3 linked regions of the Homo sapiens genome follow. The protein of the gene in region 1 interacts with the protein of each later gene in a pairwise test. Each region holds a gene or a part of one and is shown in the gene's direction. Other genes may lie near its edges.

What was found.
Region 2: the proteins of OLFM2 (region 1) and NBAS interact in a two-hybrid assay, tested with the Homo sapiens proteins (one large-scale study listed by IntAct).
Region 3: the proteins of OLFM2 (region 1) and GNB5 interact in a two-hybrid assay, tested with the Homo sapiens proteins (one large-scale study listed by IntAct).

The regions. Positions count from the first base shown.
Region 1 is NC_000019.10:9,926,444-9,930,095, reverse strand, and holds part of OLFM2 (noelin-2 isoform 2 precursor), read left to right. Parts: intron 1-3,652. UniProt on the Homo sapiens protein: Involved in transforming growth factor beta (TGF-beta)-induced smooth muscle differentiation.
Region 2 is NC_000002.12:15,271,212-15,274,863, reverse strand, and holds part of NBAS (NBAS subunit of NRZ tethering complex), read left to right. Parts: intron 1-3,652. UniProt on the Homo sapiens protein: Involved in Golgi-to-endoplasmic reticulum (ER) retrograde transport; the function is proposed to depend on its association in the NRZ complex which is believed to play a role in SNARE assembly at the ER. Required for normal embryonic development.
Region 3 is NC_000015.10:52,184,876-52,188,527, reverse strand, and holds part of GNB5 (guanine nucleotide-binding protein subunit beta-5), read left to right. Parts: intron 1-3,652. UniProt on the Homo sapiens protein: Enhances GTPase-activating protein (GAP) activity of regulator of G protein signaling (RGS) proteins, such as RGS7 and RGS9, hence involved in the termination of the signaling initiated by the G protein coupled receptors (GPCRs) by accelerating the GTP hydrolysis on the G-alpha subunits, thereby promoting their inactivation.

The DNA.
Region 1 (3,652 bases):
ATGTAGGCCAACCATATGGTATGTGTGGATTTCTTTCTTTCTTTCTTTTTTTTTTTGAGATGGAGTTTCGCTCTTGTTGCCCAGGCTGGAGGTCAGTGGCGCGATCTCGGCTCACCGCAACCTCTGCCTCCTGGGTTCAAGTGATTCTCCTGCCTCAACCTCCCGAGTAGCTGGGATTACGGGCATGCACCACCACATCCAGCTAATTTTGTATTTTTAGTAGAGACGAGGGTTCTCCATGTTGGTCAGGTTGGTCTCGAACTCCTGACCTCAGGTGATCTGCCTGCCTCAGCCTCCCAAAATGCTGGGATTACAGGCGTGAGCCACCACGCCTGGCCTGGTATGTGTGGGTTTCTGATGAGCCCAGTGGCTGGTGTGGGCAATGACTTTGTAGCCCCAGGATTCAGTGTTAGTGCCTGAGAGACAGTAATGTGCTGTTTTCATTTGTTCCTACATGCATGTATTCATTTATTTTATTTTATTTTATTTTATTTTATTTTGAGACGGGGTCTCACTCTGTCGCCCAGGCTGGCGTGAAGTGGTGCAATCTCGGCTCACTGCAACCTCCACCTCCCGAGTTCAAGCTCTTCTCCCGCCTCAGCCTCCCAAGTAGCTGGGACTACAGGCACACACCACCACACCCACCTAATGTTTACATTTTTAGTAGAGACAGGGTTTCTCTATATTGTTGTTCAGGCTGGTCTCAAACTCCTGACCTCAGGTGATCCACCCGCCTCAGCCTCCCAAAGTGCTGGGATTACAGGTGTGAGCCACCGCGCCCGGCCCATGTATTCATTTAGAGAGCATTCATTGAGAGCCTTCTGTATCTCAAGCGTTGTACTATGCAACAAGCACTGGGTGGTAGTTTGTGCTTTCAAGGGGTGGAGTAGATTTAACTTCTGGAGGAGTTGAGTCTGGCTGTGTTGGGAAAAAACTTGTCATGACAGGAACATTTTATTCCCATATCTAGGGAACTCTTGTCTGAGAACATTGACATGTCCTCCCTGCCAAGGTGGAAGCCCATTCTATCTCTTTTTTTCTTTTTGAGATGGGGTCTTGCCATGGTGCCCAGGCAGGCCTCGAACTCCTGGGCTTAAGCAATTCTCCTGCCTCAGCCTCCCAAGTAGTTGGGATTACAGGTGCACACCACCTCAGTGTGTCTTGCAACTTCATCCATCCAGAGTGCAGCCACAAACCAAGAAGTCACCAGGAAAGAGCAGAGAGTAGGGAGAGTAGATTCCATGAAGACTGTATACAAAAGCTTATTCTCTTTCTCTCTTTTTTTTTTTTTTAGACAGAGTCTCACTCTGTCGCCCAGTCTGGAGTGCAGTGGCACGATCTCATCTCACTGCAACCTCTGCCTCCTGGGTTCAAGCAATTCTCATGCCTCAGCCACCCAAGTAGCTGGGACTACAGGCGTGCACCACCATGCCTGGCTAGTTTTTGTATTTTTAATAGAGACGGGGTTTTGCCATGTTGCCCAGGCTGGTCTTGAACTCCTGGCCTCAAGTGATCCACCCACCTTGGCCTCCCTCAGTGCTGGGATTACAGGCATGAGCCACTGCATCCAGCCTGGAAAAGGTTGTTCTTGTTGCTCCTGGGGACCCAGTAGACTCTCGGTCCCAGTTTACTCTTACTTTACACATAGTTCCAACAATCCTGGGCAGCTAGTAACTAGCCTTGCTTAATAGATGAGAAGACAGGTGTCATTGCACAAGAAGAAAGAAACAAAAAGGCAAAGCCAGTTCAGCCATCAAATGAAATGGCAAATAGCTTCTCACTTTTTAGGCTCTAAGAGAGTCCTGGTGAATCCCAGGAAGAATACATGATGAGCACATGGTGAGCCGGGTTCTTTTTAAATTTTATTTTGTTTTTTTTTTTTTAAGACGCAGGGTCTTGCTCTGTTGACCAGGCTAGAGTGGAGTGGTGTGACCACAGCCCACTGTAGCCTCAACCTCCTTGGCCCAAGTGATCCTCCTACCTTAGCCTCTCAAATAGTTAGGACTACAGGTGTGTACCACTACATCCAGCTAATTTTTCTCTTTCTTTTTCTTTTTTTTGGTAGAGATGGGGGTCTCACTATGTTGCCCAGGCTGGTCTTGAACTCTTGGCCTTAAGTGATCCTCTTGCCTCAGCCTCCCAAGGTGCTGGGATTACAGGCATGAGCCACAGGGCCCAGCTAATTTTTGTATTTTTAGTAGAGACAGGGTTTCACAATATTGTTCAGGCTGGTCTCGAACTCCTGACCTCAAGTGATCCGCCTCAGCCTCCCAAGGTGCTGGGATTACAGGCATGAGTCACTGCACCCGGCCCACATTGTTTCTGTTCCTAATTTCTCTAGTAATTTCTATGAGAAAGACACTGATAGAGGCACTCACTCACTCAGGAGGGACGTGACACAGTCCGCTCTGAATGGCTGTCAGTTGCCAAATTTGGGAGACAGATGCAGCCGACACATGGTACAAAGTGCCAGATGTCAAGAGTCAAGTGGGCTTCCTGGGGGAGGTGGCATTTGAGATGGGCCTTGAAGGATGAGCGAGTGAAGACTGGAGGGTGGACACAGAAGAAAGTCATTGGTCATGCTGACAAGACCTGGTGGGTTTACCCTTATTTTACATGATTCTAACCATGTTTAAAAGAGGGGAAGTTTCTGGAAATGGGAACTAGGGTAAGTGTGTGGTTGATGCCTATGGTGGGTGCAGATAGGAGAAGGGAAGTGAGCTTGAAAAGGTTGTGATCTGACTGTAAAGGCTTCGAAAGCTGGGTTAAGGATTTTAGAATTTATTTATTCATTTATTTATTTATATTTTTTTCGAGACAGAGCCTCGCTCTGTCGCCCAGGCTGGAGTGCAGTGGTGCGATCTCAGCTCACTGCAACCCTCCCCTCCCAGGTTCAAGCAATTCTCCTACCTCAGCCTCCCAAGGAACTGGGTTAACAGGCGCGTGCTACCACGCCTGGCTAATTTTTGTATTTTTAGTAGAGACAGGATTTCACCATGTTGGCCAGGCTGGTCTCAAACTCCTGACCTCGTGATCTGCCTGCCTCGGCCTCCTAAAGTGCTGGGATTACAGGCGTCAGCCACCGTGCTGGACCTTATTTATTTATTTTTAGAGATAGAGTCTTGCTCTGTTGCCCAGGCTGGAGTGCAGTGACGCGATCACAGCTCACTGCAGCCTCAAACTCCTGTGCTCAGGCAATCCTCCCACCTCAGCCACCTGAGTCACTGGGACCACAGGCGTGTGCCACCATGCCCACATAATTTTTTTTGTTTATTTTTTGTAGTGACAGGGTCTCACTATATTGTCCAGGCCGGTCTTGAACTCCTGGGCTCATAAGATCTTCCTGCCTCAGCCTCCCAAACTGCTGGGATTACAGGCGTGAGCCACTGCACTTGGCCTAGAATTTAGTGAGCTGGTAATAGTGACTCATAGAAGAGGTTGTGCATGTTTAAATGGAAGACTTTAAAAATTTTTAATTGTGGTAAAATACACATAATATAAAATTTATCACTTTAGTCATTTATTTATTTATTTATTTATTTTTGAGATGGAGTCTCGCTCTCTGTCCCAGGCTGGAGTGCAGTGGCGCGATCTCAGCTCACTGCAAGCTCCGCCTCCCAGATTCAAGCGATTCTCCCATCTCAGCCTCCGG
Region 2 (3,652 bases), on another chromosome or scaffold:
GAACCTACGAAACGGAGGTTGGAGTGAGCTGAGATCATGCCACTGCACTCCAGCCTGGGTGACAGAGTGAGACTCTGTCTCAAAATAATAACATAAAAAAATAAAAAAGATGTTATTCATATCATGCAGTATATATCTTGGTGATAGAATTATTGAAGAGAGTGCATATTGCATTTTCTGATGTCTCCTCCATCAGTTTGGCCTCCTTTGACTGCACTCAATCCCTCAGCAATGTGTAGCCTCACTCAGAATAGATAATGTGGGTTCTCCTCCTCCCCTTTCCTGCCCCCTCACCTAGACACCGCTGCTAAACAAATGGACATTTTTCACTACTTGGACTCTGGGCATTCTCTCTCCTGGAAAATCTTAGCATTTGGACTCAACTGCTGAACTCTGTTGCCTTTGGAGCTCCTGTTTAATCTTCTCTCTTGCCATCTTTGCTGTTGCCTTCTCCTTCCGTGCAAGTCACCAGGTCTGCCCAGTACCCTATCGCAAAGATTGTTATTTTAGTTAGTATTATCCTGGAAATAGACTGTAAAGGCCAAGAATTGCAAATCATTCATTTGGAGGTTGGCACAGGCAGAGGTTCCAACTTCTGTGAAGAATGCTAGTTTTAACCAAATCACTAGATTAGTAGTTGTGGATAACCAAGTACTTCTTTATTTTCTTATTATTGCAACCCTAGTAATATATCTTGGTTTTAAATTTTACAACCACTGCTATAAAAAGGAGTAATCATGTTTTTTGTTTTTAAAGAGAAAAATAAGGATGATTTTTTTTTTTTGAGACGGAGTCTCGCTCTGTCCCCCAGGCTGGAGTGCAGTGGCATGATCTTGGCTCACTGCAAGCTCTGCCTCCTGGGTTCATGCCATTCTCCTGCTAGGAGGCTGAGTAGCTGGGACTACAGGAGCCCGCCACCATGCCTGGCTAATTTTTTTTTTTTTGTATTTTTAGTAGAGATGAGGTTTCACCATGTTAGCCAGGATGGTCTCGATCTCCTGACGTCGTGATCCACCCACCTCAGCCTCCCAAAGTGCTGGGATTACAGATGTGAGCCACTGCACCCGGCCAATAAGGGTGATTTTAAAAGACAAGAGCATAATGTATTTGAAAAGAATGTGTTTGGAGACATATAAACCTGGCTTTGAACTCTGAACCTATCACTTATCAGCTGTGTGGTTTAGCTTCAGGTATCTCTCTTAGACTTCTGCTTCCTTGAGACAGAGGTTGTGGCTGAGTAATCTGTGAGGGAGATAATATTATTACCCTAGTTTTATAGATGAGCAAACTGAGGCTTAGCAAAGTTAAGTTGGTAATAGAGAACTCAATTTGAACTCATGGAGATTTATCCCCTGGCCTTTTCTCTTAACCATTGAACTGTGCTATCTCTAAGAAGTCATAGAACAAGCAACTAGAGTCAGGGGACCTGGAACCATTTGAGAAACTGTGGGAGAGCAGTGGAACCAGAGAGCCCTGAGCATTTTTAGCCCAGTAGGAGCAGCATGTCCTGGGATTTGTCCAGAGCAGGGCTGAATCTAAATGAGAAAGTCCAGGCAGGAACCTGGTTGTATATGGGAAGGAACTGATCCAAGTTGGGAGTTTAAAATCCAAGGAACCAGCTCAGATCTGAGACTTGTGAACTAACCTTCGGGGCTAACAGGCCAGCAGGTCAGCCAGGATGGTGAGGGTGACTTTGCTCCCAGGCAGTTTTCCACTCCACCCTCAGGCTGGAGGTTGTTTTAAATATTTTATGTGAGGGAAGAAAGGGAAGCCAGCATGATCATCTGGGGCTGTCTGCTAATCGTGAGCGTGTGTGTAGAGGGGACAGAGAGTTTTAGACTTGGCAACAGCAATCTTTTATTTATGATTAAGTATAAGAGTAGGATGTAAAGTCCATTTGCGTTTTAGCTGTTATTTACCATGCTTTAAGTTAGGTGATTTTAAATTATTCACATTAAATTATTCACATTCTCATCGCTTTAGTTTCTTAACCTTATACTTCTTTCAAGATGTCCGCCAACCCCTGAAAATATGTGGCACAGTTGTTGGTGCACATATGTGTATTTTGTTGGGTTAGAGGTGCACCTGACTCAGTAAAGATTCAGTCTGCTAATTACTGTATTGCTTTCTCTTAGCTCAGATGGTATAATGCAAGCATATATATTTCTTCATTGTAAACTGTTCTCAAGAGGCGATTTTCTACTGATTCAAGTAAATTATAGAGAGGTGAGACAGATACATTTAAAATTTACATCTTTAGTCTAACCACAACATTTTTTCTCATATTAATCAGCAAGCTTTTAATTTTTAGTTCAGAAAGGAGAAGTATAAAGTTGGAAAAAATGCATGTTTGAAAGCACACAATGCTGCCCTATATAGATAGAGAGAGAGAGAGTATAAAAATCAAAATGAAACACAACCTGCAAATGTCAGAGAACATATTTGGAAGAGGAAATGCAGCTGGATTTGCCCAAATTTGCAAAACACCAGATGTTCCCACAGCTTGTACATGATGTTAAAAATGTAAAATAAATGTGTACTATTCATACACAGTGTGCAGTTTTCAAATGTGTACCCACATTTAATTTAGAAAGAAATTTTTGGAAAGAACTGGTAAGCTAATTCTCGAGTGCATAACAAGAACAATAAGCAATTGTTCAGATACTAGAATTCAGAAAGGAATATTCCCAAGGCCTGAACTGAGTGCCCAATCCACTGGTAAAACATACCAGAGAAGGCTCTTCACTTTCATGGTAACAGTCATTCCATTGCCATTTACATTTGCAGAATTCCTAGAATCTCTGGGGAAAATATTTACAAATAGTATTATGTCCTGCAGTCAGAGAGTGAATTTGTGTGCCATTTGAGATGATTAATATGCAGAAGGAAAAAGGAAGCAAATGTTTAAAGTGTATTTGTACCAAATCTAAATGCTTTTTTTTGTTGTTGTTGTTGTTGAATCAGATTAGAGTTGCTCCTCTATTGCTTGTCAATTCAGCTGTTATAAGCATTTTTATAGAAGGGACAGAGAACAAGTGAATGGGTTAGAAATCCAGGAAAATGGTTGTAAAAGAGGCTGAAAGGCAGGTCAGAACACAATTTGCTTGGTATTAGGTGGTTAGTAATGGGGAGCATATGTATAATCTTAGCCTTTGTGTTTTATACTTTCCACTTGCTGTCAATAGCTAGTACTGCTACATCCATAGATAAATGCATGGCAAATACTTCTCTCTCATATGAAATGCTGTCAAGAAGTTTGCCAGGATCCTTCTTTAAAAATTCCCAGGTAATCATACAGTTTAAAAAGTCCTTCTGGTACCTTGCCCAGTGTTACTCAACCTGGAATTAGATAGGTATTTACCCACTCCCCTTTCCCCCACCTTGCACGTGCTGCCTTTCCAACTCCCACCGTTTGTGATTCATTGCCATCGTAAACCACTGCTTCTAATGGGAAACATGTTGTCTCCTTTGGATTGTAGCAGAAAAATTATTGAGAACCTCTTATCTAGCCTACTTTCTAACCTTCAAACTCATTTCTATTGATAATTAAGCCAGTATCCCTGCTTACTTGCTTTATTTATTTAATAAAAGGTATCTTTTGCCTAATTTTGATCTCCACTGTTTGGTTCTGCCTCCTGGAGTTATGAAAACA
Region 3 (3,652 bases), on another chromosome or scaffold:
GCTGATACAAATACTAAGTGAAAAACATCAAGATACAGAAATGTAATCAGTATACATGAACAGTATGACCTCAGTGGTCTCAAATCTATTCTTGCTACACCAAAATGTAAAAAGAAGTTTCTCTGAGTGGTGGGATTATAGGTGATTATCTTCTTCCTTATATCTTTTTTTCCCCCAAACTTTCTACAATGCATATGTATAATATTTACAGTTTAAAAATGCTTTAAATTTAGTTTGTAGCTTGCCCATGTTTAACCAGTGAGGTCTAAAATGCTAGCTATGTGATACGACTTAAGGCCCATAGGACTCAAAAATTGGAGTCTCCGTTAAAAAATGGTGTTTTCCAGTAATATGCAATGACGTGAAGATGAAAATGCTATTATATAAAGTAGTATATGGCATATAATTCCAATTTGTTAAAAAGTACACACATATATACTTATAAAGATACTAGAGGAAAACATAAAATGCCAACAGGTCAGTTGTTGGTGTAGGGCATGTGGGCGATTTACTTTCCCCTTTTTGTGTCCTTCTGTTTCCACTTATTTATTTATTTATTTTTAATTTTTAATTTTCTTTGAGATGGAGTCTCACTCTGTCACCCAGGCTGGAGTGCAGTGGCATGATCTCAGCTTACTGCAACATCTGCTTCCCGGCTTCAAGTAATTCTCCTGCCTCAGCCTCCCGAGTAGCTGGGATTACAGGTGCGCACCACAACGCCAGGCTAATTTTTGTATTTTTAGTAGAGATGAGGTTTCCTTATGTTGGCCAGGCTGGTCTCAAATTCCTGGCCTCAAGTGATCCACCCGCCTTGGCCTCCCAAAGTGCTGGGATTACAGGCATGAGCCACCACACCTGGCCCTGTTTCCAGTTATTTATAATGAACATTATCAGCATCTTTTATAATTTGAAAAAATTCAAAATTTAGTTTGAGAAGAAAAACATTGCCTCTATCTAGATATGGAATATCGGCTATCTTTTCAACTTGTCTTTCTCTCCCGTGCCTCCCAGCCATCCTTCTATTCCTCCTCCACTTGGTGCCATAGGTTCCTCTCGCCTTCCATTCCCATAGCTGCTCCTCTGTCCGCAGCTCATTTCCTCTTCTCCAGAACATAGCAATCTCTTAACCTAGTTTGTTTTCCTGCCGTCCCTTCTCTCTCTCTCTCTGACCTACTTCTGGAAGCACAAATGCTGGAATAATCCACGTGGATGACACTGCTCCCTTGCTTAACAGCCTGTGGCTCACCGTCCTAATGCTATTACTGGGAGTGTTCAGCCCAACCTTGTTACTGGCTGCCTTTACAGGGCTGGGGAGTGGGATGCAACAGTTACCAAGCCCCACCATGGGCCAGGCTCTGGAGGGCAGGCCCTTTTTTGTTAACTCACCTTTTGTGACAAAACCATGCAGCTTGACCATGCTAGCTTGGAAATAGGGTTCCAAAGTGTGTATTCATGCTACTTACAGACTCAGCTCTGCCGCTGACCTTGAACTTGTTTAATCCCCCTGCTTTTCCTCAGCTGTAACACAGATGTCCTGCCTCCCTCCCAGGGAGAGGCGAGGGCTGGGCACTCTGTGGCAGTTGGTAGCTGGTTTCCTTGCGAGCTGTTGTCCCTAAGGGATGCCCTGTACACCTTTGTTGCCCAGAGGTCTCGAACTGTGCTGACTGCCCCTTTGCTGTAAGAGCTCAGCCCAACTCATGAGCCCCCATTATCTCTCCAGCCCCAGGGTGGGCTCCACATGGCAGACGTTCCTCATCAGAAATGTCCCCAACTGTCACCTCCCCCATAAATGCATCCCTCTCAGATTTGACTCTGTTGAAATGTTCAGACCAGCGCCCCCAATTATCTTTATGTTCAGGGGTTCATTTCTTTGAATCTTGACGGGGCTCACTCTAGAACACCTACCAAATTGACAGGGCCACACTGGCTGCTCCCTTCCCCCTTAACCGCTTTGTCCTCATCTCCAGCAATGGCAACATAACCCCTCGGTCTCCCAAAGAAATCTAGGCCACAGCACCCACATCTCCCTCTCCTCAACTCCACATGCCAAATCCAGCTCCTTCTCTCTTTCCTAAGCATGGTCCAAGTCCATCCCACTACATTGCTTTGTGGGCCTAAAAGGAAGAGGCTGTAGCACAAACCAAGACTTAAGGAGTTTACTTGAGCCAAAGTGAGGACAGATTCCTGGAAGGCCCAGACCCAAGTAACCTTGGACATTATCTCTGTTTGGCCTTTGTTACAAGCAGTTTTTTTAAAAAGGCAAAAAAGAGGGACCGGGAGTGGGCTGATACAAAGTTGTTAGGAATTCTCATTAGTTTACAGAAATAACATTGATTAGCGACTGGTTATACATTGTTACACTACAGGGTGTGGGTTATAGTGTCCAGTGTGGCATTATTAGGTTATTTTTTAGCTACTTGTGCCAATGGCAAGCAGTTTCAAGAGATGAGGCCAGGTGTGGTGGCTCATGTCTGTAATCCCAGCACTTCGGGAGGCCGAGGTGGGTGGATAACTTGAGGTCAGGAGTTTGAGACCAGCCTGGCCAACATGGTGAAACCCTGCCTCTACTAAAAATACAAAAATTAGCCTGGCATGGTGTCTTATGCCTGTAATCCCAACTACTTGGGAGGCTGAGGCAGGAAAATCGCTTAAACCCAGGAGAACGAGGTTGCAGTGAGCCAAGATTGTGCCACTGCACTCCAGCCTGGGAGACAGAGAGATACTGTCCCAAATAATAATAATAATAATAATAATAATAATAATAATAATAATAAAAAGATGAATACACAGCTCAAAGTGGGGACTAGAACGTTATTGCTGTCTCATTTTCATGATTCTCTGGGCCTGATAATTTAAAAGGGCTTGCATTCCTCAGATAAAAGTTACTTTCTCACCTTTAGTCCATGACTTCCTCGCGTCTTGTCTGAACCGTTGCCATAGGCTCCTCTTATGCTTTCTTTGGCATCCCCAGCCTCACCCTGCCCCTACCCATGTCCCTCCTTCCCAAGGCAGCCACTGTTCCCGCTATTGCTGCCACTCAGGGCAGCATGACCTCGCTGGCACACTCCCTGTATTACCGACCTTGAGCTAAGTGCTTTACGCACTGACTCTTATCATTCTCTTGACAACCCCAGAAGGGTAGATTTTAAGATCTCCACTTGACAGATTAGCAAAACCAAGCTTCAGAGAGGTCAGCTAACTAGCCTCAGTGGTGGGCCGGGACCAGGCAGCCAGAGCCTGTCCCTGTAACCACTAGATGCTTGTGCTGCCTCCCTGCAGCGGCCTGGGCCTGTCTGTTGACTTCCTTGTGAACAGGCAGGGACCCTGGGTCTTTGGCTGTCAAATGTTTAATAAGTGAGTGCTTGCCTTGCACGGAACCCACACCACACTTACTCAGGCCCCTGGCTTTGGTTGGGGTCAGGCTCCATCATTTGCTGACCCTTATCTTTAAAAGTTCACCCTGAGGGGAGGAATGTTTTTAAAAGTTTTAAGTTATAGCATCCATTACAAAAACGTTTTCCATTGTGAAACCCCACAGAATTGATATTGTGCTGCAAGGATCAATCCTGCCTGACGCAGGTCTGCCAGCTGCCAAAAAACTGGTTAAACGTGTTAAGTTCAGAAAACCTATTGTCTGATGCTTTCTCACTGA